2 separate regions of the Homo sapiens genome follow, and region 2 is linked to region 1. Evidence: fine-mapped expression QTL. A gene starts in region 1. The other region holds a variant in brackets. All regions are shown on one strand. Distances are from middle to middle.

Region 1 (5,370 bases):
AATATACTGAAGTAGAATTAAGGCATGAGAAACAAGTATACTGCTAACAGCAGTTACTTTCTGTTACCTACTGCTTGTCTGGCTCTGAAGGCTCATTGTCCTCCAAGCCTTAAAACAAACCTGAGTGGAAACAGACTGTGAGAGATTTAGTAACTTGTCCAAGCTAGTAAGTGGCCAAGCTAGAATTTCAGCCCTACTCTGAAAAAGCAAGTACTTTGGCCATTTTTCTTAACTGTATCTCTGCAGGGTATAGATTTGATCTCCAAGAAGCTTTTTGCCTAAGTGGATGGATAAGCCTTGCCTAAGAAACCACACACCAGAAGCGGCACTGACAGAGATACTGTGTTGGGGCAGAGGCAGGAAGGGGGAAAGATCGGTTGCAGTGGATTTAAGGATAGTGAGAAAAACGGTTTGCTTGCCTGGCGTAGCCTGGAAAAGGAGGGTGGGTCCCCACTGTGACCAGCTCTGGATGCCCTTCGAAACAGAATGGGTTTTCTCTTCCAGGCACTGGGAGATCTTTGAAGGTTTGTGAGCAGAAGAAAGTAACACAGAGTCATGATTGAGGACAACGCATTTGGTGTAAAGTTTCTCCCTGGGGTAGATGTTGATTAAGGGAGGGGTGATTACAGGCCAGAGAGAGTTCTGTGAAACCCAGGACAAAACAAAATGGCATCTACTTCCTGGGAAGTTTTTTTTTTTTTTTTTTTTTTGAGACAAAGTCTCGCTCTCCTGCCTCAGCCTCTCGAGTAGCTGGGACTACAGGTGCCCGCCACCATGCCCAGCTAATTTTTTGTATTTTTAGTAGAGATGGGGTTTCACCATGTTATCCAGGATGGTCTCCGATCTCCTGACCTCGTGATCTACCCGCCTCGGCCTCCCAAAGTGCTGGGATTACAGGCGTGAGCCACCGCGCCCAGCCCTTCCTGGGAAGTTTTAAAAATGCACTGGAAGACTAACTGCCCCATTGTCGTTGAGGGATTACACTGATAAAGCTACTGGATAGGACATTCTGCAATATTTTCAGAAATATTTATAAAAGCTGCATTAAAACATGTAAAAATGCTTATGTTAAAAACAGTATGACTACTATTCTAGTATGACTACTATTCTAGTATGACCACTATTCTATTTAATAGCAATAGTAACATTATCATCCATAGGGGAAAATTGGAAAACAAGCAAATACAATAAAATGTCAACTGTATTTGTGTTAATGTGATGAGACTCATTGGTGTTTTTTCCTTTTCGGCCACTTTCCTACATTTTCCCCAGTTTTCTCTAATGATAAACATTCTTTTTATTTCTCTTAAAAAAAAACACCATGCGGACTTTTCTAAGTGTTACTTTGCCATACGTACGTGGCAGGGGAGTTATAAGGAGTAAATGAGCAAATACACGCAAATTACCCAGCACGGTGCCTGGCATAAAATCGGCGCTCAATGAGTACGAAGCGTGAAGGGTCGCCGGCCCCGCGTCCCCGCCTTGCAGGAGCCCGGACCCGCCGAGCAGGCTCCCGGTCCGGCCCGGCCCGGCCCGGAGGCCGATGCTTCGCGGTAGTGCCCTCGCGGGTCCTGCGGACTCGGCGCCCGCGGGGCCCACAGCGCTGCCCAGCCTGTGGACGTGGAGCCCGGGCCGCACCGCCGCACACGCCCCGGGCATCTCTGCGCTACGTCGCGCGCCCCCACGGCTCCGCCCCGTGGCGTAACCCGGGGCGGGGCCGCCACCTCCGATTGGCCGGCGCGCTGTCACCACGTCGCGGGAAGCTGGCAGGGTGTGTGTCTGTGTGCGTGTGGGGTTTGCTTTGTCATTCGTACCCCCGGTGCGCGCTGACGCGGTCGGCCTGGCCGAGCTCTCCAGCATCCGCAGAAGGGTCCCCGGCGCTGTTCCTGGGATGCTCCCTTACATAATGACGCGACTGGCTGAAGCGCACGTCAGCGCAGACACCGCACATGCCGCAAACCCGGGCCTTCCGATTTCATACATTGCTAGACGAGAGCCTACAATGCCATGCCGTACGGTATGCTCTAGTAGGGATTACAATACAATGAAACGCAACCCAATAATAATAAAGCATACCTTCGCAACAAGGCGTAATATAGGATGTTATATTTATAGGGCCTATTTATAAGCCTCTATTTAAATCTTTTCTGATAGGCTCAGCCGGGGACCCAGACACTATAATGATTGGCGCATTCTTCCGTCCTTCAAAGGGGCGGGTTCTAGAGTCAGTTTTGCCTCAGCGGGCCCTGGGATTGGCCGACAGCGGTTTACCGGTGGCTTCTATTGGCCTCCCGGGCCGTCCGTCGGAGCCGAGGAGGCGGGGCAGGCGGCTGGCTGGTGCTGGGCGGGCGGGCCCCGGAATTGTCATTTCTTTGTTTCCGAAGGCGGAGGAGGCTCCGAGCCCCCCCTCCCCGTGCTACCCCCTCCCCCCGGGTGCTGGCTCCATGTCTGTGTGACCGGCCTCAGGGGTAGAGTCCAGGCCCGACGCGGGGCGGGCCAGCGGCGGCGGCAGCTGAGGTGAGAGACGGCGGCGGCGGCGCGGGCACCCGGCCCCCCAGCGGGAGGATGAAGCGGCGGAACGCCGACTGCAGTAAGCTCCGCCGCCCCCTAAAGCGGAACCGGATCACCGAGGGCATTTACGGCAGGTGAGCGGCTGCACCCCCACTCCGCGGGCGCGGGCCCTGCGGTCCCCCTCCAGCTCCGAGGGGCCTGGCCCCGTTATGTAACCCCGAGTAGGCCGCACGCCCGCGCCGGGGGCTCTCCTAAGGAGCGCTGGCCCCGGAGCCGCTGGCCCGCCCGCCGGGGTCCGCCCCGGGTGCGCGGGGCGTGGCGAGGGTCGGCCCGGCCGGGCGGGCAGGGCGCGGCGGGCGCTGGCTGAGGGAGCCGCCGCGCCGCCGTTGGAAGCGCCGGGCCCGCCGGGGGGAGGGGCGGAGAGCCCCCAACCAGCCCGGCGTTCCTCAGCATCCCGGCCATGCCGCTGGGCCGGGAGGGCCGCTTCCGGGACCTCTGACTGGCCGCCGCTGGCCCCCGAGCCCCCCGGTGGCCTGGGGGCTTGCCGGCCGGAGCCAGGAGGCGCGTGGACCACAGCGCGGGGGGGTGGGGGAGGCTGACAAAGTTGAGAGCCCACTGTGGCCCCTCGTTCCCCCAAGCTGCCAGCATACTGGCCTGGGGCCATGCTGTCACTTCTTTCACCTTCTGCTTCCCATATGGGATCTCAAACTTGGCACCCAGGGCTGAAGCTGATACCCCCAAATCATGCCCTGTGGCCCTGCTCCAGATTCGGAAGGGTCTGATGACCAGTTTTTCAGCAAATATTGTTTTGACAATTCCAAGCAGATAGCTTGCTTTGAACGTTTTTAAAAAGGGATTTTCTCCAAACTCTTTTTTTTTTTTTTCATCCGCAAGAAAAGCAGTGTCCCTTTAAATAGAAATTGAATTCAGTCCACCGGTAGAGAAAGACAACAGGTTCATGGGGCAACTTACTATCATAGCTTCCCCAAGTCGATTTGTGTACGACTGTTATTTTCTGGTTCTTCTCAGAATGTTACTTGTAAATGGTATTTGCCTTGATACAGATTTCGGTGGAGAAGTAATTAGTTTACAAAGAAGAATTCTCAGCATGTGGATGTAGGCTTAATTGAGTCCTCATGGTGTTTTACAATTAGCTTCTCTAGCTGTGGGATTTCAAGAAATATGTGAGGTAGCTGATGACACCCAAGTTGTCTTAACATAACTGTACACCTTGCACATGCTCTTGTTTACAGATGTGGAATGATTGCTTTCCACAAGCAGCTGACTGATGTAAACACTGGGGATTTTCTTCAAGTTTAAAAGCATTAAGGAATCAAAGTAAAAATTTCTTGGGTATATTCTTATAAAATGAGCCATAGAGCATAGGAGTAATTCATTCATTCATCAGTTATATATACTATGTGCCAGGAACATTTCTAATCAGTGAAGATAGAGCAGTGAGTAAAACAGACTCTAATCTATGCTGGATGAATCGAACTTGACCATTTTAACTTGAACTGTGAAAGCAAACAATTTTTTCTACACATAGATGGAGGAAAGGTCTCTTCAATTCACGTTACATACACTATACATTCTTGAATTAAAGAAAGTTTTTCCCCTTTGGCTATTGAAAAATATTTGACCAACTTAACATTAATGGTAACATAAAAATAGGAAAGGGATATTAAACCGAGTTGGTAGACTTAGCACAACTGTGGCATTTGAATAGCTGCTATTTACAGTAACATAAGATGATGTACCTCCATTTATAGCAAGAAGATTGAGAGTCCCATATTGTTTACGTGTTTTCTGCTGTATTTCCATTTCTCTGTACTTGAACAAATAGACCCAGTTTACAACCTGCGCCATAATAGCTACTCAGTGTGAATCGATGTGAAGAAGTGAATTCATCGTTTAATGAAGATTTATCATCTTACTGATGGCTTTTGAAATTTGAATTTTCTTACCCTAAAGGTTAATTGTAAATACTCTTTGCAAGTTATTCAGAGGTTCATCTGCAAAATTTTAAAAACCGACAGTGCATTAGCCTTAAATCTTCTTATGCTTCTCTGTTTTGCATTCTTTAAGTTAAATGTTAATAAAAGACCTAAATGTATTTCTAACTGTCTTTCCTGGTTGGAGTATCATATATCAAATGAGCGTTTCAACTCACTTATCTGTTTCTTGGTTTATATTATGGAGTATTGGACTGAAGAACAAGATTTTTTTTTTTTTGCCCAATTCTGTTTTTAAAGAGATTTAGAAAAATTTCCTGTTATTTCTAAAGCAAACAGGATGAGTGGACTGGTTATAAACTAGAATGCTTGAGGATTCATGAATATCAAATTTCTGGTGATCATCAAATTTAAGTCTATGCTAAGTTGTTTTTCACACCATCTATTGCCCATTTTGTTTCTCAACAACATGTGGCCAATTTTGGATTCATTAAACAGAGAGCCTTGTTTTTTTTCTGGGGCCGTGTTGACAGTTTTGATAACCACTGTCTACTGTTTCATAGCCAAACCTTTCATGGACTTACTATTTTCATGTTCTCAGTCTGTACAACTTTCTGAGCCTTGGCATAGGAAGGAGGCAGCTGTGGTGAAAAGCGCACTGGACTGCAGGAATCAGGAGACCCAGGATCAGACTCAAAATCCCAGCTCTGCTGCTTTAGGCAGACAGGGCATCCACAGCTTTGAGCCCCAGTTCTCCCACCTTCAAATGAGTTTTGAGGACTAAAGGAGATATGTACAGTTTGTGAAATGCTTTATAAATCCTAGTGTAGTTTACAGATACTATTTACCATGTTGTTGCTATCACAGTTTAACGTGTGGTTAATTTTTTAAGGAGGCAGGAAAT
Region 2 (5,370 bases), 99 kb after region 1:
TGGGAGTGACCGCTGCAAAATACAGGGTTTCCTTTTGGGGTGATGGAACTGTCCTGGCATTAGCTAGTGGGGACGGTTGCACCACACTGTAGATGTATGAAAAGCCACTGAACGGTACACTTTAAAATAGTAACATTATGTCATGTAAATTATATCTCAATAATATTAAAACCACAGAAAAGAAATAATAAATAAATGATGGGGAATATTCCCTTCCCCGCTACAGAGTTATTCGCCCCCACCCAAGCACTGCCAGCCGCCCACTAGAGTTTTTGTGTTGTCACTTCTTGTGGACTGGTCTGTCTCCCCGGCCTTGGAACCCTTTGAGGGCAGGGCGAAGCCGGGCTACCTCTGCTCCTCTCTGCAGCCCCAGGCCCTGGCGGGCAGGCAGCATCAGGTGTCCAGCCCGTGCGCTCTTGCCGTCACTCCCAAAGCTGTGCCCGTGCCCTCCGTGTGCAGCTTGGGCTTGGAGCCTACAGGGAACTGGTCTCACATCCGTTCCATGACAGGGGTGTCCTCCCCTCTCGGGTCTCCCCAGGCCCATCTACTGCTGCCCCCAAGACCCCATGAGATGCCCGGCGGGGAAGCCCTTGGCCGCCAAGCATCCACCCCCTTCCATTCAGTGATGAGGAAAGCCAGGGCCAGAGAGAGAGATGGCCAGTGTCACACAGCAAGAGTAGACCAAGAGCCCAGCCACCCAGTGCCCTCCTTGCTGCTGGCACGCCAGAGGACAGGCCCACAGGGCTGGGCAAGCACCAGGGGACCCCTGCACCAGGCAGATGGCCCGCCTGGTGTATGAGGATGTGGAAGGACAGAGGGCTGGTTGGATCGGGAAGCTGAAATCACGAGGGGAAGGTCCCAGTGCCATCCTTATTACACGCCATGTTTTGATCATGGAGACAGCCGTTACCACAAAACCGCAGCCATGCCAAATTCATGGGCTTCCCTTTGCAAACACCCCTCCTCCCGCTCCAGGCTCACAGAACTGGGGTTCCCGTGTCAGGGATGGGGCTGGACCCTGAGATGAACCAGCCCTCTGGGAGCCATTGCGGCAGCCAGGACCGCAGCTCCCTGAGGCCCAACCTTTCCCCTCTTCCAAGGGCTCTGTGTTCGTGCATTTATTGGGCACCCATTGTGTGCCAGCTCCTATACCACAGGCTGAGGTTAAGGGGACAGCAAAACTGGCACAGGCCTTTCCTTCATGGAGCTCACAGTTGAGGGGGAGACAGGCATCCAACAATCCCACAATCAAGCTTTCCATCGCCACCGCCCAGACTGGTCATTGTGGACACACAGGGAACCATGTGTGGGAGCCCTGCCCTGGCCTGGGGGCACAGAGAAGTTTCTCTGATGAAGTGGGGCCTGAAGCGGGGGTTGGGGGGTAGCGGATGGAGGGCAGCCCCTCCCTCTGCTCTCCCAGCCTGCTGCCTCCCTCCGTGGAGTAGCTCCTGGGCATGGACCAGATGGGGAGTCTGTGGGTTTTGTCTATAGTATGTGCATGTGTGTGTTGTGTTGTGTGTTGTGTGTGGTGTATTGTATGTGTGTGTGTTGTGTTGAGAATATGCGTTTGTGTGTATGTATGTGTTGTGCCTGTATATATGTGTTGTGTGTGTTGTATGTTGTGTTTAGTGTGTGCATGTGTTGTGTGTTTGTGTGCTTTGTGTATGTTTATGTTGTGTGTATGTGTTGTGTGTGTATTGTACGTTGTGTGTATAGTGCCTGTGTGTGTGGTGTGTATGTGTCATGTGTGTGTGTTGCATGCATGTTGTGTGTATTGTGGGTCATGTGTATACTGTGTGTGCTGTGGTGCGCTGTGTGTTACGCAGTGCAAGGGGACAGCAGAGACAGCTCCCCTCCTCTCCCTTCCCAGCAGGGGAAGTGGCTTGGCGGTCAGGGAGGGGCTGTGGAGAGCCGGCCCCCCTGCTGGCACACCTCACCCACTGGAGCAGAAGAAGGAAGGGGTGCCCAGTCCTGTCTGCAGTGGGATGGGGGCGCTGCCCATGCTCCTGCCACAGGACTCCTACCCTGGCTCCACCATGGGCCTCAGCAGGGGGGTCCCTTTCTTCATTTGTAGATGGAGGCGCCTACGGCATCTGCCCCAGGGAATAACTGAGAAGAGGGGCGTGCTCACGGCACGCTGCACTGCAGGTGCGGGGCATTCTTCTGAAAACACCGCCTTGGTTAGTTTTTCCTCTTCAGAATCCCTTGGTGCCCCCTGATGGAGTCAGTCCTATTTTTTCTCACTGGTGTGGGAGACCCTGGGGGCTTGGTCCCTCTGCTCTGTCTAGGGACCCTCAACACCCCCTCTGCCCACCCCCACACACCTGGCTCATTCCACTGCCCTCCCTCCCCGCCCAGCCGCACCAAGCCCACCCTCGAGCCCCCAGCGCCCTCCCACCCGCTCAGGGTCCTCCTGTTCCTTCCCTTAGCGATGCCATCTCCAGGGGCCTGCGCCATCCTGTAGCCCCAACTAGACCCAGAGGGCAGGGCCCGGGCCTCCTCCAGCCTCCCGTTCCTGCAGTGCCTGGTGGAGGCTGCACCCGTGATCAGGTTGGATCCCGGGACTGCAGGGTTCAGACGATCTCATGTGAAGCGCCTCTGAACACCTCTGTCACGAGAGCCGCTGCTCACTTGAGACGGGGGGACAAGGCTGAGGCTGGGGGAGTGCTCAGGTCCCAGCCATTCCCAGAGCCAGCGGTCTCCCCTCCCCAGCCGCAAAAGGTAGTTCTTCCAGCCACTGTCTGCGACTCCCCTGGGAACATTTTTCACAAGGAGGAGACACATTCATGAGGCATGTGGGCACAGCCTCCACAACAAGGGACAAAGTGATTCCATCCCTGGTGAGAGGGGAGAGCCTCTGCGGGGCTGCGGGGCTGCGGGTCTTTATCTTTCTGCCTTCTTCACCTCCTCTTTGAACAGAGACTGGCTCTGGGTTCACAGTCCTGGGGGCACCAGAATCCAGCCAGAAAGAACAACACCCGC[A/G]TCTGTTTATGGCAACTGAGCTGTTTTCTATTTGCATAGTTTCCTTTGAAAATAATTATTTAAGTAAAGAGGAGTGGGTTTTCCAAAACACACTATATAGCTATCAGTGCAGGCAAAGATGAAAGTGATTTTGGATGTTAGCGGTTTGGGAAACACAGCCTAAAGGGTTTCTGGGATCTGGGAGGTGAGACAGTAGTCCTGGTATTCTCCGGGTGTTGACAATGGTAACTGACTCACAGGTGGCCTTGTATCTCAAAGCATCAGGGGGTCAGCCTCCACGTCTCCAAAGCAACTGGAGGGAAGGGTGCTGGGGGCCAAGAAGGCCACTCCTGAGTGAGGGCCGGGCCTTGCTCGGGCTGTCCCCCTGGACCCTGTGTCCTCCCCAGAGTGTGAGTACAGCCTGCAGAGCCCGGGTCTGCCGTGGCCTTCTCTGTTCCCGACCCCCTTCCCCACAACTTTTCCTATAAACCTCTCAATCACAAGCAAGGGGGCCGATTACCCAGCCCTCCCTTCACTCCTCGATCACAAGCAAGGGGGCTGATTATCCGGCCCTCCCTTCGCTCCCCTCCCAAGGGCGGCAGGTCACCCTCCTTCTAGGCGAGGCTGACTTCTTGGCACAGCGCCTCCCCTGGCACCCACTCCCTGGACTGTCTCCTGCCCTGGGTTCCTCTTGCAGAGTCAGCCTCCTCCGTGGTTCCCAGCTGCTGAAAGAAGCTGCCCTCTGTGAGTCTGAGGTGGTTTTCTGGCACTTTCCTTTAAAACACTGCCACCACCTCCTATAGCTGTTGGGAATCCATAGAACAGACCAGGGTGAAGGTGAGGCCAGCGAGGTGCCTTGTGTGCAAGGTTTACGGAGGCACTCTCATCCTCAGCGAGCCCTGAATGTGAGTCTTGACTTTCGTATCCCAGGCCTCACACTAGTCCCAGCCCTACTGCAGAACCCAAGAAAAAGAAAACCTGCTGGTTAGAAGGGTTGGCCGGGCACAGTGGCTCATGCCTGTAATCCCAGCACTTTGGGAGGCCAAGGCGGCCAGATCACTTGAGGTCAGGAGTTCAAGACAAGCCTGGCTAGCAAGGTGAAACCCTGTCCCTACTAAAAATACAAAAATTAGCCAGGCGTGGTGGCAGGCGCCTGTAATCCCAGCTACTTGGGAGGCTGAGGCAGGAGAATCACTGGGACCTGGGAGGTGGAGGTTGCAGTGAGCTGAGAGTGCACCATTGCACTCCAGCCTGGGTGACAAGAGCAAGACTCCATCTCAAAAAAAAGAAGGGTTTTCTGGGGGTCATTGATGCTTAGACCCATTCTCATAGCAGTTACGGCCTTGGGAAAATACATCTGAGGGAGGCTGATTGGCAAGACTGCTGCCTAAACACAGCTGTGTGGGTTGTGCACTGCACAAGGGCATAAAGTGAATGGGTAGGGTGGCTGAAAGACAGCCTGTCTCCATGCTGTATGTCTCAGCATAGGGGAAGGGACACCTGTTTGTGTTTTGTCCATTGGTGAGGGAACCTATCAGTAGTTCTGACATGGGTATCAAATATGCTAGTGATGACCCTGTAGACACCGTGAGGAAATTAGACAGGGGCAGGGACTTGCCCTGGATGGAATACACAGAGCAGAACCCAAGTTTCTTGATTTTTTTTTTTCAGACAGGGTCTCACTCTGTTGCCCAGGCTGGAGTGCAGTGGTGCGATCTCGGCTCACTGCAGCCTCCACCTCCTGGACTCAAGCGATCCTCCCACCTCAGCCTCCTCAGTAGCTGGAACCACAGGCATGTGGTTTTGAAGCCAAAAAGGACTTGAAGCTGGAAGCAGATGGGGAAACCAGCAAGGGAAGCTTTCCAACATGGAGAGATTAACTCAAGAAGTTGCAGCCAAAGACAATCGATGGAAGTGACCTAAGGAATCCCAGGAAGGAGGGAAGCCCGGAGGTCCAGGCTGAGCGCCTTGCAGCCTGCTGGGCAGTTGTCATTCACACCCACAGTCCTGGGGCTGGCAGGAAGCAGAAAGGCTGAATCACTCAGGTCTGGAAAAGAATGCTGGAACCACCAAGTTCTGACGTGAGATATCGGAACCAAAATGGGCGAAACGGACAAGGGAAGGGACTGAAGCCCAGACTGCTGGGGAGTGGAAAGACGAGGGACCAAAGTCAGGCTGGAGAGCATTCATCATGCCACACTCCCAGGATGTTTACTGAGCACCTACTGTGTACTGGACTCCTCCGTGCCCTGGGGCTATGCACTGAACCCAGCATTCATAACCCCATCCTCTAAGGGTCCACATTCTAGTGGCAGGAGCAGACCATAAACAACAACCTTAAAAAATAAATCAATTATATAGACTGTCAGGATGCAATACACGCTATTTAAAACAAAACAACCACAGGAT

The links.
Region 2: its variant is fine-mapped to the expression of MACO1 in whole blood (INTERVAL, PIP 0.97).

Annotation. Positions count from the first base shown.
Region 1 is chr1:25,428,534-25,433,903 of GRCh38, forward strand. It overlaps MACO1 (macoilin 1), which reads left to right and starts at 2,364. Exons shown (of 11, transcript NM_018202.6): 1 at 2,364-2,645. The coding sequence starts at 2,566. It also overlaps a transcript of RHCE not described here. RefSeq lists silencers at 1,390-1,829, 2,220-2,879.
Region 2 is chr1:25,527,737-25,533,106 of GRCh38, forward strand. No RefSeq gene overlaps it. Among named protein-coding and RNA genes, the nearest start is that of LDLRAP1, 13 kb to the right of the region's middle. The variant A/G (reference allele first, on the strand shown) is at 2,983.